Homo sapiens: one gene and its partner. The protein of the gene in region 2 purifies or fractionates together with the protein of the main gene of each other region. This does not show direct contact. Each region holds a gene or a part of one and is shown on either strand. Other genes may lie near its edges.

The links.
Region 1: the proteins of ERAP1 (region 2) and TMEM87A purify together in Homo sapiens (affinity purification with mass spectrometry; 2 studies listed by BioGRID and IntAct, with this or other methods). This does not show direct contact.

The regions. Positions count from the first base shown.
Region 1 is NC_000015.10:42,234,999-42,243,266, forward strand, and holds part of TMEM87A (transmembrane protein 87A isoform 1 precursor), read right to left. Parts: intron 4,734-8,268; coding exon 4,672-4,733; intron 2,618-4,671; coding exon 2,434-2,617; intron 1,422-2,433; coding exon 1,322-1,421; intron 1-1,321. UniProt on the Homo sapiens protein: Potential monoatomic ion channel gated by mechanical force, implicated in normal touch sensitivity through the generation of mechanically activated currents.
Region 2 is NC_000005.10:96,804,041-96,813,209, forward strand, and holds the start of ERAP1 (endoplasmic reticulum aminopeptidase 1 isoform b precursor), read right to left. Parts: upstream 3,906-9,169; 5' UTR 3,820-3,905; exon of another isoform or gene 3,418-3,819; intron 1-3,417. UniProt on the Homo sapiens protein: Aminopeptidase that plays a central role in peptide trimming, a step required for the generation of most HLA class I-binding peptides.

The DNA of each region.
Region 1 (8,268 bases), on a different chromosome or scaffold from region 2:
ACTTCCTTGGTGACCAAATCCAGTCTCATGACTTTATTTATTTATTTATTTAACTTTGGAGATGGAGTCTCGTTCTGTTACCCAGGCTAGAGTGCAGTGGCATGATCTTGGCTCACTGCAATCTCCGCCTCCAGGGTTCAAGCGATTCTCTTGCCTCAGCCTTCCAAGTAGCTGGGACTACAGGTGCATGCCACCACAGCCGGCTAATTTTTTGTATTTTAGCAGACACAGGGTTTCACTGTGTTGTCCAGGCTGGTCTTGAACTCCTGACCTCAGGCAATCTGCCCGCCTTGGCCTCCCAAAGTGTGAGGATTATGGCGTAAGCCACCACGCCTGGCCTTCATGACTTTAAATAATATCTTTATCTTCATGACTCCCAAACTTTTATCTCTGCCCCAACCTCTCCCCTTTGTTTCCCCTACTTAGTTATCTAATTCAACTCCAATCTTGCCCCTGCTCCACACTTATTTCACCTAAGGTCTTCCTGAACTCAGTAAATCTTCAATTCCATCCTGCCATTTTATCAGATCAAAACAATTGGCATCATCCTTAATTCCTCTTCTCTTTCCTATCATACATCTGATCCATCAGCAAATTCCACTGGTTCCACCTTCAAAATATATATAGAATCTGATCTCAATTCAGCATCTCTTCCCTTGGGTATACATATAGCTCCCTCACCTCCTTGAAGTCTCTGCTTAAATGTCATTAAGTGAAGCCCTCCTTGATCACCCTATGTACAACTGCAAGCTCTAGCTCCTGCATTACCTGCTCCACTGCACTTTCCACTGACATATTAAAATATTTTACCCACTTAAATTTTGTCTTTGTCCCCTCCCTCCACAAATGTAAGCTCAAAATCTTCTGTTTACTTGCCATATCCCCAGGGCCTAGAACAATGCCTCAAAGAATGCCTATAGAAGACACTCCTCAATAAAAATAAAATTTTTTGGATAGAAAAATATTTTCAGACAGTTACAGCAAGAATGCGTTTCCCATAAAAAATCTAATTTGCAAAAAATATTTTGGAAGTATGGAAATATATTCGGAAGTATGGAATACATTTGGATTTGGAAGTATGGAATACATTTGGACTTGGAAGTATGGAATATATTTGGAAGTATGGAATATATTTGGAAGTATGGAAAATGAAACACATTTTCCCAACATTTACAATGCTACAAAATTTCAAATACCTTTCTTGTTTCAGAATTATTTCTTTTATCAACTATTTCAGAACTACTACATTGGGAACATGCAATACTGTTTTAATTTAATCAGCATTTTAATTTGCTCTTCCATACAGGAAGTTAATACTTACTTGACGATGCCATATCCCAGACTGACTATGATGACCAGGGTTCGAGCCAGTGAGCGTTTCACTGCTGAAAGCAGCTCTGCAAGGATCAAAGCACCCTGGACTATGAAAAAGAAGGGAAGAAATGGCACCATAATCTAGGTTTGGCAACAGGCCAGATGCCAATACTAGACTGCTGCTTTCTACACTCTTCAGAATAAGCATTGATATTAGTCCTGCTAAAATAGAATACCTCTTCCACAGTTTTTACAGGATACAAGCTGATGCCACTCACAATCTTACTCATGTCTATGTATGGCAATCTGGGTGCGCTCAACTCAGCTCCCTCCCCGACCTGGCCCCAAATTCACTAAAACTTTAACAGAATACCTCACCCTATATGGACAGTTTGTAGCATCGAGACAATTTCCCCCATTTTTAAAAACTGTGAAATACAGCTACACATAGAAAAGCACAAAACACACTCGTGTACACGCTTGTTGGCATGTACAGCTTAACTTTTTTCAGATCTACTATTTTCAAGACCTTTCAAAGACCAGGGAAAATCTTATCAGTTTATCTCACAATAATAATTATGACTAAATTAAATGGTCTGACAAGAAAAAACTGAAGCAATCACAAAAAACTACAGTATAAAACAACTTCTGTCATTACCAGTTCACCTTACTAAACCATAAGCACTCTCCTATTTTCTTGATATGACTATATTTTATCAGTTAGATGCACTTTCCCACCACATTTTGAGGTTTTTTAAATCAAGGTGTGTCTTACAATCAGTGACATTTTACAATTAAATTGACAGCTTTACTTTTTTTCTTAGATGTATAATGGTGCCTTAGAAATCAACAGAAATTGAGATTTGATGTTAATAATCATTCCCAAAATGGTCACTACTGTTGTGACTTTTGTGAGCATATTTCAGTAAAATTAGTCTTACATCACTGAACTCATAAGATTAAAAACAAAAGTCAGAGTCATAGTGATTCTGCTTAAGATATTGTAATAATTAAGTAATTGAAAAGTTAAGCCTATGTAGTGACTGCTGACCTTAGGAATATTTTCATACATCTCACCTTCCAACCACTCGAACTGGCAAAGATTTTCTGGTTACTTACCAGATTCTCCTTTGTATCGGATATTCTGAAATTCCGCATAGAAGACAGCTTTCTCAAGCATTCCCAGGAAGATGACAGCACCAATCCAAAACTGAATTCTCAGGAGATCTCTCCAGTAGCAGGCAGACCATGCCAGCCACAGAACACCAAACAGGACATATACAATACACATCACCATGAAAAACTGTTATCAAATTGGGTAAAAGATAAAAAGGAGAATTAGGGCCAAGAGCCAAGTCTGTAGATTTAGAATCAATATATACTTTTTTTTTTTTTTTAAGAGATGGGGATTTGCTATGTTGCCTAGGATGGTCTTGAACTTCTGGACTCAAGCAATCCTCCCATCTCTGCCTCCCAAAGTGTTGGGATTACAGGCATAAGCCACAGCGCCTGTCCTGAATCAATATACAGTCTTAACAAGTTACAAAAATATATTCTACCTTCTAGTTAAGAAATAATTCTTCCTTTGGAGCTTAACATTAACTAATATGAAAGCATTATCTTGTCTTGAGCAGAGAAGACTACATATGAACTTGTCCTCAAGAGCGAATGCTCTCATATGTATATATATATATGTGTGTGTGTGTGTGTGTGTGTGTGTGTGTATGTATGTATCACATATGTATACCATATAAAAGGTGCTCTCTATTATACACACAGACACATATATGGTATATATAGAGAGCACTCAGCCTGCTCTCCTATAGTAAAAGAGCTTTTTCTGGTCAGGCGTGGTAATTCACACCTGCAATAGTGCTTTGGGAAGCCGAGGCAGGAGGACTGCTTGAGGTCATGAGTTCAAGGCCAGTCTAGGCAACATAGCAAGACTCTGTCCCTACAAAAAATAAAAATTAGGCCAGGCATGGTGGCTCATGCCTGTAATACCAGCAATTTGGGAGGCAGAGATGGGCAGATTACTTGAGGTCAGGAGTTCAAGACCAGCCTGGCCAAAACATGGTGAAACCCCGTCTCTACTAAAAATACAAAAATTAGCCAGGCATGGTGGTGCGCACCTGTAGTCCCAGCTACTCAGGAGGCTGAGGCAGGAGAATCGCTTGAACCCAGGAGCTGGAGGTTGCATTGAGCCAAGATCGTGCCATTCCACTCCAGTCTGGGTGACAGAGTGAGACTACGTTTCAAGATAAAAAATAATAAAATAAAATAAAAATTAGCCAGGCATAGTGGCACACGCCTGTTGTCCTAGCTGCTTGGGAGGCTGAGGTGGAGGGTAGCTTCAGCCTGGAGTTTAAGGCTGCAGTGAGCCATTATCCATTATCATGCCACTGCACTCCAGCCTGGGAGACAGAGTGAGACTCTCTTTTTTTTTTTTTTTTTTTAAAGAAGGAGCTATTTCAGCTCACGATCTAAAATTATATAGATGAAGACAACACTGAAGAAGAAAAATGGCATGATGATTAGGATACATCTAGAGGCAAGGAAACACAACAAAACGGGAAAACTATTAAAGGGAAAGGAAGAAGAGAATAATCATGAACAAAGAAAATTGAAAATATATTAAGGATATTCTGAGACACAGACGTATGCACACATACATGTATGTGCACACATACACACATACACACACAAAATGAAGAGAAGGGAGCTTCATCATTTTGTTAATTTTTTGTTGTTGAGACAGTTTCACTCTGTCGCCCAGGCTGGAGTGCAGTGGCAAGATCTCAGCTCACAGAAGCCTCTGTCTCCTGGGTTCAAGCAATTCTGCTTTAGCCTCCCGAGTAGCTGGGACTACAGGCGCCTACCACCACGCCCAGCTAATTTTTGTATTTTTAGTAGAGATGGGGTTTCACCATGTTGGCCAGGCTGGTCTCAAACTCCTGACCTCAAGTGATCTGCCCGCCTCAGCTTCCCAAAATGTTGGGATTACAGGCATGAGCCAGGGCACCCAGCCTCATTTAGTTAATGTAAGTGGGATCAGAAACAATAGAGTTGTAGTAAAAAGTGCCCCACTATGCATCCTAGAGAGAATGTGAGATGATCTTTGAGGTATTTCCACAGGTCACTGACCCCTTCATTATATGGATAAGAAAATGAGGCACACAAGGGTATACTGACTCTCTCAAAGTCCCAGTCTAATAAGAAATAAATCCAGGACTACAAGCAACATTTTCTGAATTGCACAGGAACAATTCATTAAAAAGAATACTGCCACAAAACATGGGACAATCTTTGAACCCAAAACCATCCAATACTGAGGTTAAATAATATAAAGTCACTTACAATCATCAAGGGATAGTCTTCAAGTGTGAGGTATTCATAGGGACCCTTCACTTCAACAGTCACTGCCAAAACAGAGTCCTCAGAATTAATTTACAGGATGCAGAAATTAAACAAAAATATTGCCTAATATTTGTTTAATGAACTTAGTAAGAATTTCATTGGGTCATTTACTTTTAGGCACTTCAATCCTGGTCAATATTACATTATATTTGTACAGCACTTGGAAAGTCATTAAGTGTCCTCATAGTTCATGCTGTGTCCTGCACAGGTTTCCATGCCTCCACCATAGTCTGAAGTGGGAAGGCTCTTTTGTTTCCATACTCACATCTTAAAAAAGACTAGATTGAATATTTCCTCCACACAGCCTTCTCTGGCTGCCCATCTGGAACAACTCTACACATACTCTAAATTCTAAACATACTTCATATATACTTTTCCTTACAACACATCAGTAAAATATGCCTTACAGGACTTCCTTTTTACATATTGCCATCTTCTTTGTTTTCTATCTTTCCTCACCTGTATTTTCCTATTGCTTTACTATTTTTTCATGGACTCCAATTTTCTTTTATTGCTACATTCATGTATCATTTTCGGAATGAAGGCATTGGAAAAAAACTTAAAAATTTAAATTAACTCACACAAAAAAATATACCATCCCTCATACAAGATTGAAATCTAGCTTCACAATCAGGTACCCTAGATGCTCACTCCAAAATAAAAATAACTCAAAAGTTCAGATGCTTCAAGGCAAAGCTCCATCCAATAAACATAGAATTGAACTTCCCCAAAACCTGCTAGTTAACATTTTTCAAAGAATTTGTTAATAACAAAGTGTTTAATGAGACAGATAAAGTAACAGTAATAACATATATCTGAAAGACATATTTGCCTTAGTAAAGCAAACATTGACTAATTTTAAGATTATCTGTAATTTTAAAAACTATTTCAAGATGGACTATTTTATTATTGTATTGATAAAATAATTTGGATAAATTCTAGGCATAATTAATAAATAAAAATCTGACTTGAGTGGTGATCATCCCTAGAGACAGACTAATAACTGTTCATTCAACAATTCCCTACTAGCTTCTGATATACCATTATTTAAAGTAAACTACATCCAATACTTACATGAAAAAAAGAGCATTCCATAAGAGCAATTATAAAAATTTCAGAGCAGAACTATTATTAAATCTATACCTTCCTAATTCAATAAAAGAGTAAACAAAATAATTAGTAAATACTTGGATCATATTCTTTGCTTACTCTATGCCTTGGTCAGCAAAATATAGCACATGGGCCAAATCTGGCCACCAGCTTTTTCTGTTAATAAAGTTTTATTGGAACACAGCCACATCCACTCATTTACATATTGTCTACAGCTGCCTCTGCACCACCTCGCAGAGTTGGGTAGTTATAATAGAGAAAAAATTTACTACCTGACTCTTTAAGAAAAAAATTTGCTAGCCCCTGCTCTATGCTAAAATATACATTTACTAAGCACTTATTATTTGACAGGCCTATGGAAAACACAGCAGACAGAAACATGAGTAAGATGTTTTCTGCCATCAAATGGGTAACCACCTTGCAGGGGAGAGGGAGTTGACAAGCTACATAGAGAACTATCCCTCTCAGCCAGACTAGAAGGATAAGTAGAGAACTATCCCTCTCAGCCAGACTAGAAGGATAAGTATGTATTTTCCAGAACAAAGTAAAAAGCCTTCTAGGTAGAGGAAATAACATGAACAAAACAGCTGTGAAAATGTGTGGTATATTTAAAGAACAAATATAGTCTGAGACTGCATATAATACCATATAGTAGTGGTGTTTTGACATAAGGCAGCAAAAGGTAAACTGGGACCAGTTGTAAAGAGTTTTATAAACCTTGCTGCAAAATGTAGTCATTTTATAGGCAATGGGGAGCCATCCATTAAAGGTTTCGATGAAGGGAAGAAAAATGATAAAACTGTATTAGTGATGATGTATCTTCTCCATTCCAAAAAAAGACGGGTATTTTTAAAATGAAAAAACAAGGCCAGGTGCGGCGGCTCACACCTGTAATCCCAGCACATTGCGAGGCCAAGGCGGGCAGATTACTTGAAGTCAGGAGTTCAAGACCAGCCTGGCCAACATGGTGAAACTAAAAATACAATCTACTAAATAAAAATCTAGTAGATTTAATAATTTAGCAGATAAATAATAATTTAGTAGGTTGTAAAAACACAATGTACTAAAAATACAAAAATTAGCTAGGTGTGATGGTGCAGGCCAGCAATCCCAGCTACTTGGGAGGCTGAGGCAGCAGAATCACTTGAACCCAGGAGTCAGAGGTTGCAATGAGTCAAGATCACACCACTGCACTCCAGCCTGGGTGACAGAGTGAGACTCTATCTCAAAAAAAAAAAGAAAAAAAAAAAGAAAAAGAAAAAAACAAAAAAGGATATAAGCTCAAAAACAAGACAGACATTTCCAAGAATCAAAACAGAAACTCAAAACAGTGCACGAGGCCGACTCCATGATCATGTTGGGCTCTTGGGCCAGAAGCAGGCTATGGTAGTTGGAAGTGCTGTCCCTATGGGATCTATGGTAGTTGGAAGTACACTACCAATGTACTACGGTAGTACATGGGATCATTGAAGCTAGTAGGTTTCAAAGAAAAAGAAGAGGGACCAGAGCCAGGCTGGATGCATGAAGAAGCTGAAGTAGGGTGGAATAAAGCTTCTCTTCCAGCCTTTTCAAAGAAAGAAGGTTGAAAATGAACACTGGTAACTGTGCCTTGAGACTATAATCCATTAGAAAGTCATGGGCCTAAAAAGACAGGAGGATACACATGTATGAGTGAGGGGGAGAGGGACAGGGAGAGAGGGAGAGGGAGGGAGGGAGGAGAGGAAGAGAAAGAGAGAGAGAGACAGACAGACAGAGAGAATATGCGTGTGTGTGTCAAAACCAAGTAGTGGTATCCCAGAAGTTCAACAATGATTTAATGTTAGAAGATCAGTTAATTTAATGTATGACATTAACTTATTAAATGAGAAAGCCCATATGATCATTTAAATCAGTACAATTAAACTATTTGATAAAGCTAAGTATTCATTCTTAACATTTTTTTTAAAAAAGGAAACTATTCTCATTAAACTAGGAATAGAAAGGAACATCTTTAACCAAATGAAGAATATTTCAAAAGTTCTACAGTAAACACAGTACTTAATGGTGAAATATACCAATACAGCCAGTAAAGTCAGGAGCGAAGTAACGGTGGCTGCCATCATTGTTTCTATTCCATATTCTGCTTAAGAAAGCAGGGTAGGAAAGGGCCAGGCACGGCGGCTCACCCCTGTAATCCCAGCACTTTGGGAGGCCAAGGCAGGCGGATCACAAGGTCAGGAGATCGAAACCATCCTGGCTAACACGGTGAAACTCCGTCTCCACTAAAAAATACAAAAAAATTAGCTGGGTGTGGTGGCGGGCGCCTGTAGTCCCAGCTACTTCGGAGACTGAGGCAGGAGAATGGCGTGAACCCAGGAGGCGGAGCTTGCAGTGAGCCGAGATTACGCCACTGCACTCTAGCCTGGGCGACAGAGTGAGATTCCATCT
Region 2 (9,169 bases):
AGGCATAAACTTCCAAAAGTACTAGGTCTTTTCCTGAAAGTAAAAGGACCTTCCCTATGTTATGGTTTCATATAAGAAAGATGTTTACAGTTAGCAACAATCATTAACACGTACTAGAAAGCATCATTTGATGTTCAAAGTTTAAATTAACTCTACCTGTCAGGGTTCTTGGTTGAAAGCAACCGAACAAGCTCTGGCTGATATAGGCAGAAAAGGAATCATTAGGGGATCCTGAGTGGCTCACTACACGGGTCACAGAGTTGCAGGACATTTGGGAAACCAGGCTCATGAAAGAAGCAAAACCAGAACCATATCAGAGGAACATCTGATCAAGCACCACTCCCCACTGACACTGGACCTTGGAGAAAGTCACCCTAGTACCCTGGAAATCAAATGCTGACACAGTGGCAGCCACCACTAGAACGAGGTCTCCACTTCCCCTGTAAGTATATGTAATGGTAACCTTTAATAACATCAGTGTCTTCCTCAAATTGTCATGCCAAAAGTTAATTACCTATTTATTTAGCCAGGAAGAGCTTAAAGAGCTTAATTTTCCCAGTAGTTTGTGGCAAACGTATCAATCACCTGGATTGATTTTAAAGACATAAAAGCAATGTGAATTTCAGGCCAGGCATGGTGGCTCACGCCTGTAATCCCAGCACTTTGGGAGGATGAGGTGGGCAGATCACAAGGTCAACAGATTGAGACCATCCTGGCCAACATGGCGAAATCCCGTCTCTACTAAAAATACAAAAATTAGCTGGGTGTGGTGGTGCGCACCTGTAGTCCTAATTACTTGGGAGGCTGAGGCAGGAGAATCGCTTGAACCTGGGAGGCAGAGTTGCAGTGAGCTGAGATTGCACCACTGCACTCCAGCCTGGCAACAGAGCAAGACTCTGTCTTTAAAAAAAAAAAAAAAAGGCAATGTGAATTTTAAGGAAGTTGGCAAACCATGCCCCAAGCATCAAACATAAGTTTTTATTTCTTTTATACAAACGCACCTTTCTAATGGGTGTTTGCCAAGAGGGGCCCATACCAGGTGAATGCAAGTGATTGGCCCAAACTCCTCGTGTTCCAGTTGGGAAAAGTAGCAAGCTTACAATGTGGATCCCTCAAAGTGTTCACAGTACATGGAATTCTCCCTCTCTGAGATGTCAAGTTTCCTAACTCTGGCTGCATATTAATGTAACCTGGGAAGCTTTTAAAATTTTCGATGCCTGGGTCCTTATTGACAACAATTAAACTGGAACCTATGGTGATAAGATCGGGGTATGGTTTTACGGATTGTTTAATTTCTGGTTTTTGGTTTTTTTTTTTAAAAAAAAAAAAAACTGTCCAGAGATTTTACTGAGAAGCCAAGGTTGAAAAGCTCATCCTTGCCAAATCCTGGCTTTCCCCCTTCAACTCTATGTGATAGGATACTAATTCAAGGCAATGGCTGAAGTGCCTTCCCTAACCCCTGACTTCCTTGCTCCCTTCCCAAATGCACAGCTCAAGGGAATTCCCTTCTCCTCACCTCTGGAGCAATCTGGAGGCTAAACAGAAAGGATACCTACACATTAGAGAGAGTCTTGGAAATCTCATAATCCCAGTTCAAAAGGCACCACCCAGGTGAGACAGGAAGTGTGAACAGGGAGAACATTTTTTTGCCCTTGAAGTTGGGGAACTAGAGAGTAAATGGAACTTGTGTTTTGCTTTCCATATGGAATTACTGGCAGCAACAGCTTAATGAGCATCGCCCCTGCCCCAAGACGGGATCCAGAGGACTCTGTGAAGGTGGCAGGTTCAAGCATGTAAGGACTCTGAAAGTCCCCGAGACCTCTCCAACAGCCCCAGAGAAGATCTAGAAATTCCAACTCGTTATGAGCTGACAGAAAGGCTGATGTGCTGCGGAAGGGGTTGGTACCGGGACCTTGGATCAGAGGCTTTGCAGGGTTGGGTCCATGAGGGGTCCAAAGAGAAACAGTTATGTCTCAACGAGGATGCAGTGCATGAGTGGGGCTTGGTAAAAACTCCATGTAGTGAATAAAGGGCTTCACTAATAAATTCTCTTATTAATCCCAAACTGTAGGCTACATCCAAGATTCTGTGATCATGTTCGTGTGTTTGGCTCTTCCCCTGAAAAATTAGCTCTTGTTTGGCTTTGCTTCCAATAGTAAGTGTTCCAGTTTGAAACATGGCATTTCATGGTTCTGGCTGGTCTCCTAGGGTCTGGTTTTACTAACAATTTTCTGAAAGGGAGGCAGTTAAAAAAAAAGAAAGCTCTCAAAAACAGTAGTCTACTCAATATAAGCAGCTCTTCCCAAGAGAAGTACAATTCTCTTTGAAGTTACACTCCACTAACACTTAAAGGAATAGAAGCCAAGGAGGAAAAAGAACTAATATTTACTAAGCTCCTCCAAAGTGCCAGGCACTTTACACATGCTCACTCTCTCTAATAGCCTATTATTCTCATTCAAGGTGGGGTAACTGAAGCAAAGAACCATTCATGTAACTTTGCTAAGTTCACACAACTTGTTGGAATGCAATCCACATCTGTGTGAGTATAAACTCCCTGCTTTTTCAGCTTCACCAAGATCCCTCTTTTTTTTTTTTTTTTTTTTTTTTGAGACGGAGTCTCGCTCTGTCTCCCAGGCTGGAGTGCAGTGGTGCGATCTTGGCTCACTGCAACCTCTGCCTCCCTTCCTTTTATTGGGGCACTATAGTATATGAAATAGATCATCAAGAAGTAATTGAGGTTCTTCCAGAATTTCCTGAACAATGAAATTAACAAGCACTGTTGGTAAATAATAAAAATGCTGGATTAATTTGAAAAAAAAAAAAGTACTAGAATGTTTCTATTCAGGCCGCACCTGAAAATGTGCTACTTATACTAATTAAAAATCCTCAGGCAAGAGACAACTGTGCCCAATTTTCAAGTTTTTTGTTTTGTTTTGTTTTGTTTTGTTGTTTTGTTAATTGTTGACCACGTCCTGAGTTCAGAGCGAATCCTCTGGGTGTTTAATAGGAAACAGATAATTTCTTTCTGAACCTAGCCTACACAAAGAAATCCAAAAGCGTGAGGAAGTGTGTGCTCTCCCCCTTCCCCTCATGGAATTAACTTTGTAGGACCACCTGGCCAGTGAGGCACCCAGATAGGAAACTTTTAATTTGCGTCAACAGAGGTGCTTTATCTGAATAAAACCCAGCCAGAGCCAGAGCGAAGGGGAGAGAGAGAATTGCTGACCAGAAGAACAGGAGAAGCAGGGAGGGAAGTGACCTTAAGAACACACACGGCCCGCGCATCCCACCCCACCAGAGTCTTTAACCCAAAGCCTCTGGGTTTCTCTAGCAGCTATGGGCAGGTGCCCTCCTCAGCCCGAGCCAGCTGCCCGCCCCACCCCGCCTTTTGGCCTCGCGCGGGCGTCGGTGGCCTGCAGGACTGGCAGGCATCCAGGCGCCAGGCGGAGCGCTGAGGGAGGCTCCCGCCGGCCGAACAGCGGGGAGACCCGTGAAGCAGGCGCACCGGCCACGCGCCCGGAGGGACAGGGACAGGGACCGGCAGGGGTGGGCCCGCCGCCAACCCGCCGGGCACCCCGCGGACTCGGGCCTAGCCAGCGACTCCCCCCGCCCTTCCCGCGCCCTGTCTCGCGCCCCGTCGCCTTCCTCCCGCGCCCCGTCGCCTTCCTCCCGCGCCCCGTCTCCCTCCTCCCGTGCCCCGTCTCCCTCCTCCCGTGCCCCAGGCCCTCAGCCCCCCACTTGACGGGCGCAGGGAAGGGGCGGGTGCCGCGCTCTCCTCCCGGCCCGCAGTCCCCTACCCGCGGCTCGAGCGCGCTGTACCTGGGGTTCTGGGGCCGCCCTCACCCTTGCGCCGCCGCCACCACCACTGCCGCCGGCCTAGCTCCCCCAGGACCGAAAGTGAAAGTGGAGCCCGGGGAGCGGCAGGCTGGCGCTGAGCGGCGCTTCGGCCCGAGCCCTAGCGGCAGGCGGGGAAGCCCCTGGCTAAGGCGGGAGCTGGGGAAAGGGTAAACGGGAGTGGGGCCGAGCGAGGGAAGCCGCAACTCCCAGGAAGGGAATTGGTAAATGAGCGCTGCACGCCGGGGAAGCTGCGAGGTTGCGATGCGGGGGATCAGGCGTAGGAAGTGCACGCCTTTCTGAACGCGGATCCGTGTGTGTGTGTGTGTGTGTGTGTGTGTGTGTGTGTGTGTGTGTGTGTGTGTGTGTGTGTGTGTGTGTGTGTGTTGAGATGCTTTTTGTTTTTGTCTTTTTTTTTTTTTCACTGTTTAGCGTTGCGAGGGTTAGGGGCATGCAGGAAAGGGCCGGTGCTCAAGTTGGGGACCGAAGCCAGGCAGGCGCTGACAAGTCCACCAAGCCTAGACGCGTTCGACGCCCATTGGACTCGCTGGGTGTCCGTCATCTCGCCACTGCCAGTGGGCTGAGAGCTCTTGGCCCGCCTCGGAAAGAAACATGAACCCAGTACTCTGTCGTGGCAAAGTGCCGCACCTTCTGGGGCTTCGGTAGAGAATGACTACAGTGGGAGATGCTGTAGAGGAGGAAGGTGGGTTAGAGGTGGCCCCCAGGACTTTCCTGCACTACCAAGGGCCACTGTACCCCAAGGATTAGCTGCTTCCCGCATCAACACGTTCCCTCTGATTTTTCAAAGTAAATGACCATTTCTTCACTCCCCTTAGAACAATTAAAGCTGAATAAAATGGCCAAAAAGACCATCTTTAAACAGTTGAGGCTAAATGAGGTAACAAGTCAAGAAAACACAAACATTAAAACACCAAATGCTACAAGTTTATTACCGAAAATGGGTCCCGATCCAGACCCCAAGAGAGGGTTCTTGGATTTTGCGCAAGAAAGAATTTGAGGGGAGTCCATGGAGTAAAGTGAAAGCAAGTAATTAAGAAACTAAAGGAATAAAAGAATGGCTACTCATAGGCAGAGCACCCCCAAGGGCTGTTGGTTGTCCATTTTTAGGGTTATTTCTTGATTATATGCTAAGCGGGGGAAATTATTCATGCCTCCCCTTTTTAGACCATATAGGGTAGCTTCCCGACGTTGCAGTGGCATTTGTAAACTGTCATGGAGCTGGTGAGACCGTAGCAGTGACGACCAGAGGACACTCTCATTGCCATCCTGGTTTTGGTGGGTTTTGGCCAGCTTCCTTACTGCAACCTGTTTTATCAGCAAGGTCTTTATGACCTGTGTCTTGTGCCTACCTTCTATCTCATTCTGTGACTTAGAATGTCTAACCTCCTGGGAGTGTAGCCCAGTAGGTCTCAGCCTTATTTTACCCAGCTCCTATTCAAGATGGAGTTGCTCTGGTTCAAACGTCTCTGATAATTTGGTGAGTGGACCATGGTCCTAGTGGGAACAGGACCCTTTTCATGCGGTTCTCAGACTTTCTTCTCCCACTTCTTTATTGGCCTTCTTCCCTTTGAGAACTGGGGATTCCAAGTCACTGCAACAGTATTTCTCTTTTTTTTTCAATATTATGTTTCCTTTTTAAAAATATAATGTTTCATACTGCCTATTATCTCTAGTCAAGGACATTTTATAATATAAAGATTAACACCCTGTTCCAAGACTCAACTACGGTGGGATCCAGGGAAGTTTTTTTCACTAAAATTCAACAAGAAATGAGGACTTTGAGATCTGGTAATTTCTGCATGTTCAGAATTTGACAGGAGGTATCAATGGATAGCGTGTAGCCTCCAAGACCTCCAGACATCTCGGAGTGCTCCCAGTTTACTCAAGATGAGACCTCTTTGTCCAGTAAATGTATGCATTTCTTTGCTTTTATATTTATATTTTTGAATATGATGGTTTTCCTTTGGCTTCTAGTAAAGTTTTTTTGTTTTTGTTTTTGTTTTTTGTTTATGTGTCTTTTTAAATACATATTGAAAGTCCAGCTGGCAGAACTGAATGCACCCAACAGGCTGGAGGTTAATACAGAAGACAGCTGAGGAGACAAACAGGGCAATGCCCTGAATGGATGTGGGCAGAAAGGAGCTGAAGTGTAGGCGAGGAGAGAGCTGACACCACCACCCGCTCCACGCCGTTTCCCCAAAAGCTCACCCTGACTCAGACTTTAGCCTGTCGCCCTGGCCGTGATTTCGTCTTTAGAGTTGAAGTGCACTACAAAGAGCGATAAGTCAGAGGATTTGGCAGCATTCACTTCTAGTTTCAAAGCCCTAGCAGGGATGTAGAGGACACAGACCTTGGAGTAAGGACTTTAAGGAGTCCTAGTTCTAGAGCCTGTGAGATCAAAACAGCACATTACCGAGCTTAGAAATGGTTAGAAGGAAGGGAACAGAGAGAAAGGGTACCTAGGTTTATTGATTCCCTACCAACTGTTAGATACTGTTAAATGCTAGCTATGTGTGCATGTGTGTGTTTATAATTTGATCTCTTCAGCAACCCTGTAATGTAGATATTATGCTTTATAGATGAGAAAAATGAGACAGGTCGGCAACTTGCTCAGAGTCAAAGAGAAAACACACACTAATTCTACTCACATTGCATTGGCCAGAACAAGGAGGGGTTGGTAAACACTAATATTGTATACCATATAGTGTAGGAGGGCTGGTTGGCCGGTTGAGCCCATCCATTGCAGAGGCTTCTCAGTGTCCTTAGTCCCAGAGGTGAGCCAGAGGAATGAGGAGAATTTCAGGCCTAGGCCAATGAAATACATACCACTTTGAGCTATTACTGATCTACTTAAAAAATATTGAATTCTAGATATTGTCAAGTGATGTTCAATTTTGCTGTAATTGATTGATTCAGTTCTGCTTTCATTAGCTTTTAGTCAATTAATGTCAGCGTTTGGCTCATTTCTTCTGTTTTGCTGCCAAAGCTGCTCCTATTTTAATCATATTACCACTCTCCTTTTTGATGTAAAATCTCATCCAGAATCATGGTGTAGAAAACAGACAAAAGCAGGCCTGCTCTTATTAAACAGGGCAGCTCCACCCAGTCAGCCTTGCCCACTGCTATCCGGCCCTTCCACACACATTGTGGTCCTTGAGACTCTTCCATAGGCTCCCAGGGCCTTAGAACTTAATTTTTTTAAATGCCAATTTAAAAAAAAATAATAATGCCCCTCATTCTTGATATTCTTGATAAAGAGGATGACTTTTTTCCCCCTCTGTGCCAAGTTGCAGAGCAGGCTTGCTTAACAAAAGCAATACCATCTTATTAATAATCAGAAACAGGGAAGACGGTACAGATGCCATGTTAAAGACTGTTCCAAAACAGGCCACTGAGCTCATATCAAATAATAAAGTCCTCTGAAATGTGGCAGCTTGAAAGCATTTACATATAGTCTATCTCATGGGATCCTCACATTGTACTTATGCAGGTGGCTAGTAGCTCCATTTTTCTAGAATGAGGAAACAGGATTAGAGATGTGAAGTGACCTACCAGGGGCCACCACATGGAAAAAGCCTGCTTTAAAGTGAAGCCAGTTCAAAGGACAGCAGGGCTGACAGAGACAGAGAATACCTCCACTAAAGCCCTCAGCTCCAGCTGTCCTGAGCAAATCCTGTCCTTAGACCTTCCATTCAAGAGGACCAATGCTTTCCTTTTTGATTTAGCCAGTTGGAGTCAGTCTTCAGAGAGAGTCCTGTATTACCATACAACAGAGCACTATGGGAGCGAGCAATGTATGCCAGATTCTGTAGGAACAACTCAAGCAAGTTGAGTGACCACAGCTGCCCTTGAACTTCTAGAATTGTGGATCCTGAAGAACATTCTAGGTGCCACGAGGACTGATCACATGTTTCCCATTTTCCCTCCCTCAGGCATTTATTTCACAAGATACTGCTGTCTAAGGTAACCTGAGCATGTTTCCAGTTCTTGCAGCCTTACAGAACCCAGGGAATCCACCTGTCTCCAACCTTCCTCAGTAGGTGACAGGCCCATCTAACTGCTCTCTAGCCAGTCTTCTGTATTCCTGTTGCTTTTACCTTTGCTCGTGTCAACAAGGAGGTAAGTCACCATGACATATTTCTTAAATTTGTATTTCTTTCATCACTAATGAGACTGAATATATGCACTGAACATATGTTAATTAGCCGTTTTTGCTTTGTGTTTTCTCTTTTGAGAATTATATGTTTATGTTTCTTGTCCATTTATCTACTGGAGAATCACAATTCAGTTATATAAAAATTATCTATGACACACAAGAGAAAGCAATGAAATTTCTTTAAAATGCAAAGTGTCATAGTCAGTAAAGCTCTACTATTTCAAAGAAAACCCACAAATGTGTCTGGATAAATCATGTCAATTTCTTAAAAACCCAGATCTATACCCGTTATGGTGAGTTGTTTGAAATATCAGAATTTACTAGATATTGTCAATATGAACAGATTAAAGCAAACCTTTGTTTAGGAGGCTTTATTTTATTTATGGCTCCCTCTGCCACAGCTATTTCACAAAGAAAGAATGAATTATCCAGCCAGGAGTGAACATGATCTTTGCATATGCCTAAAGGAATGATAAAAATATTGGGATGAAAAATATGTAGATTTGTTTATTGTTATTTTTTGAGGGACCATGGTGTTATGCTACTAACTGTCTTGCCTTAGCTATAATGAATATCTGTTGCAATAACTAAACATGGGAAAAATAACTTTTCAAAACCTTAGTTTCTAGAAGGTTAATGGATTTTATTATATTGAAATTAAATGAGCTATGATACAAAGGAGAAAAGGAAAGAAACGAATAACTTTCTCAATGAAGTTCTGTAAAGTATATACAATTGGGGCCTGAAAAGAGAAACTCATTTATGCTCATCCATACATGGCAGTGTGAAATTGACAGAGTTTGGCTTAAGTGAAGTCTGTGGTTCTAGGAATGCTTGCAATTTATTGGAAAATTAGATTGTGATTATGGAAGAAATGACTCAAGTGGTCTTCAGGCCACCACAGCCTTTCTTTTTTTTCTTTCCCAACCCTTCCTAAGAGACAGTTCTCCTTATCTCATTTAAACTTATGGGTTTGAACTAAGTGGTGGGAAGTGGAAGAAAGAGACATTATCTTACCCCTATAAACCTACAACACTCCCTTGGCTACCCTGGTGCTTAGGAATGCTGACTTTATCTGTCCTTAAGAAGCTGTCTGGACCATAGGAGGAATGCTTGGTTTTATTTACAAAGCTGTCTAAAGGATGAACAAATGAAGTG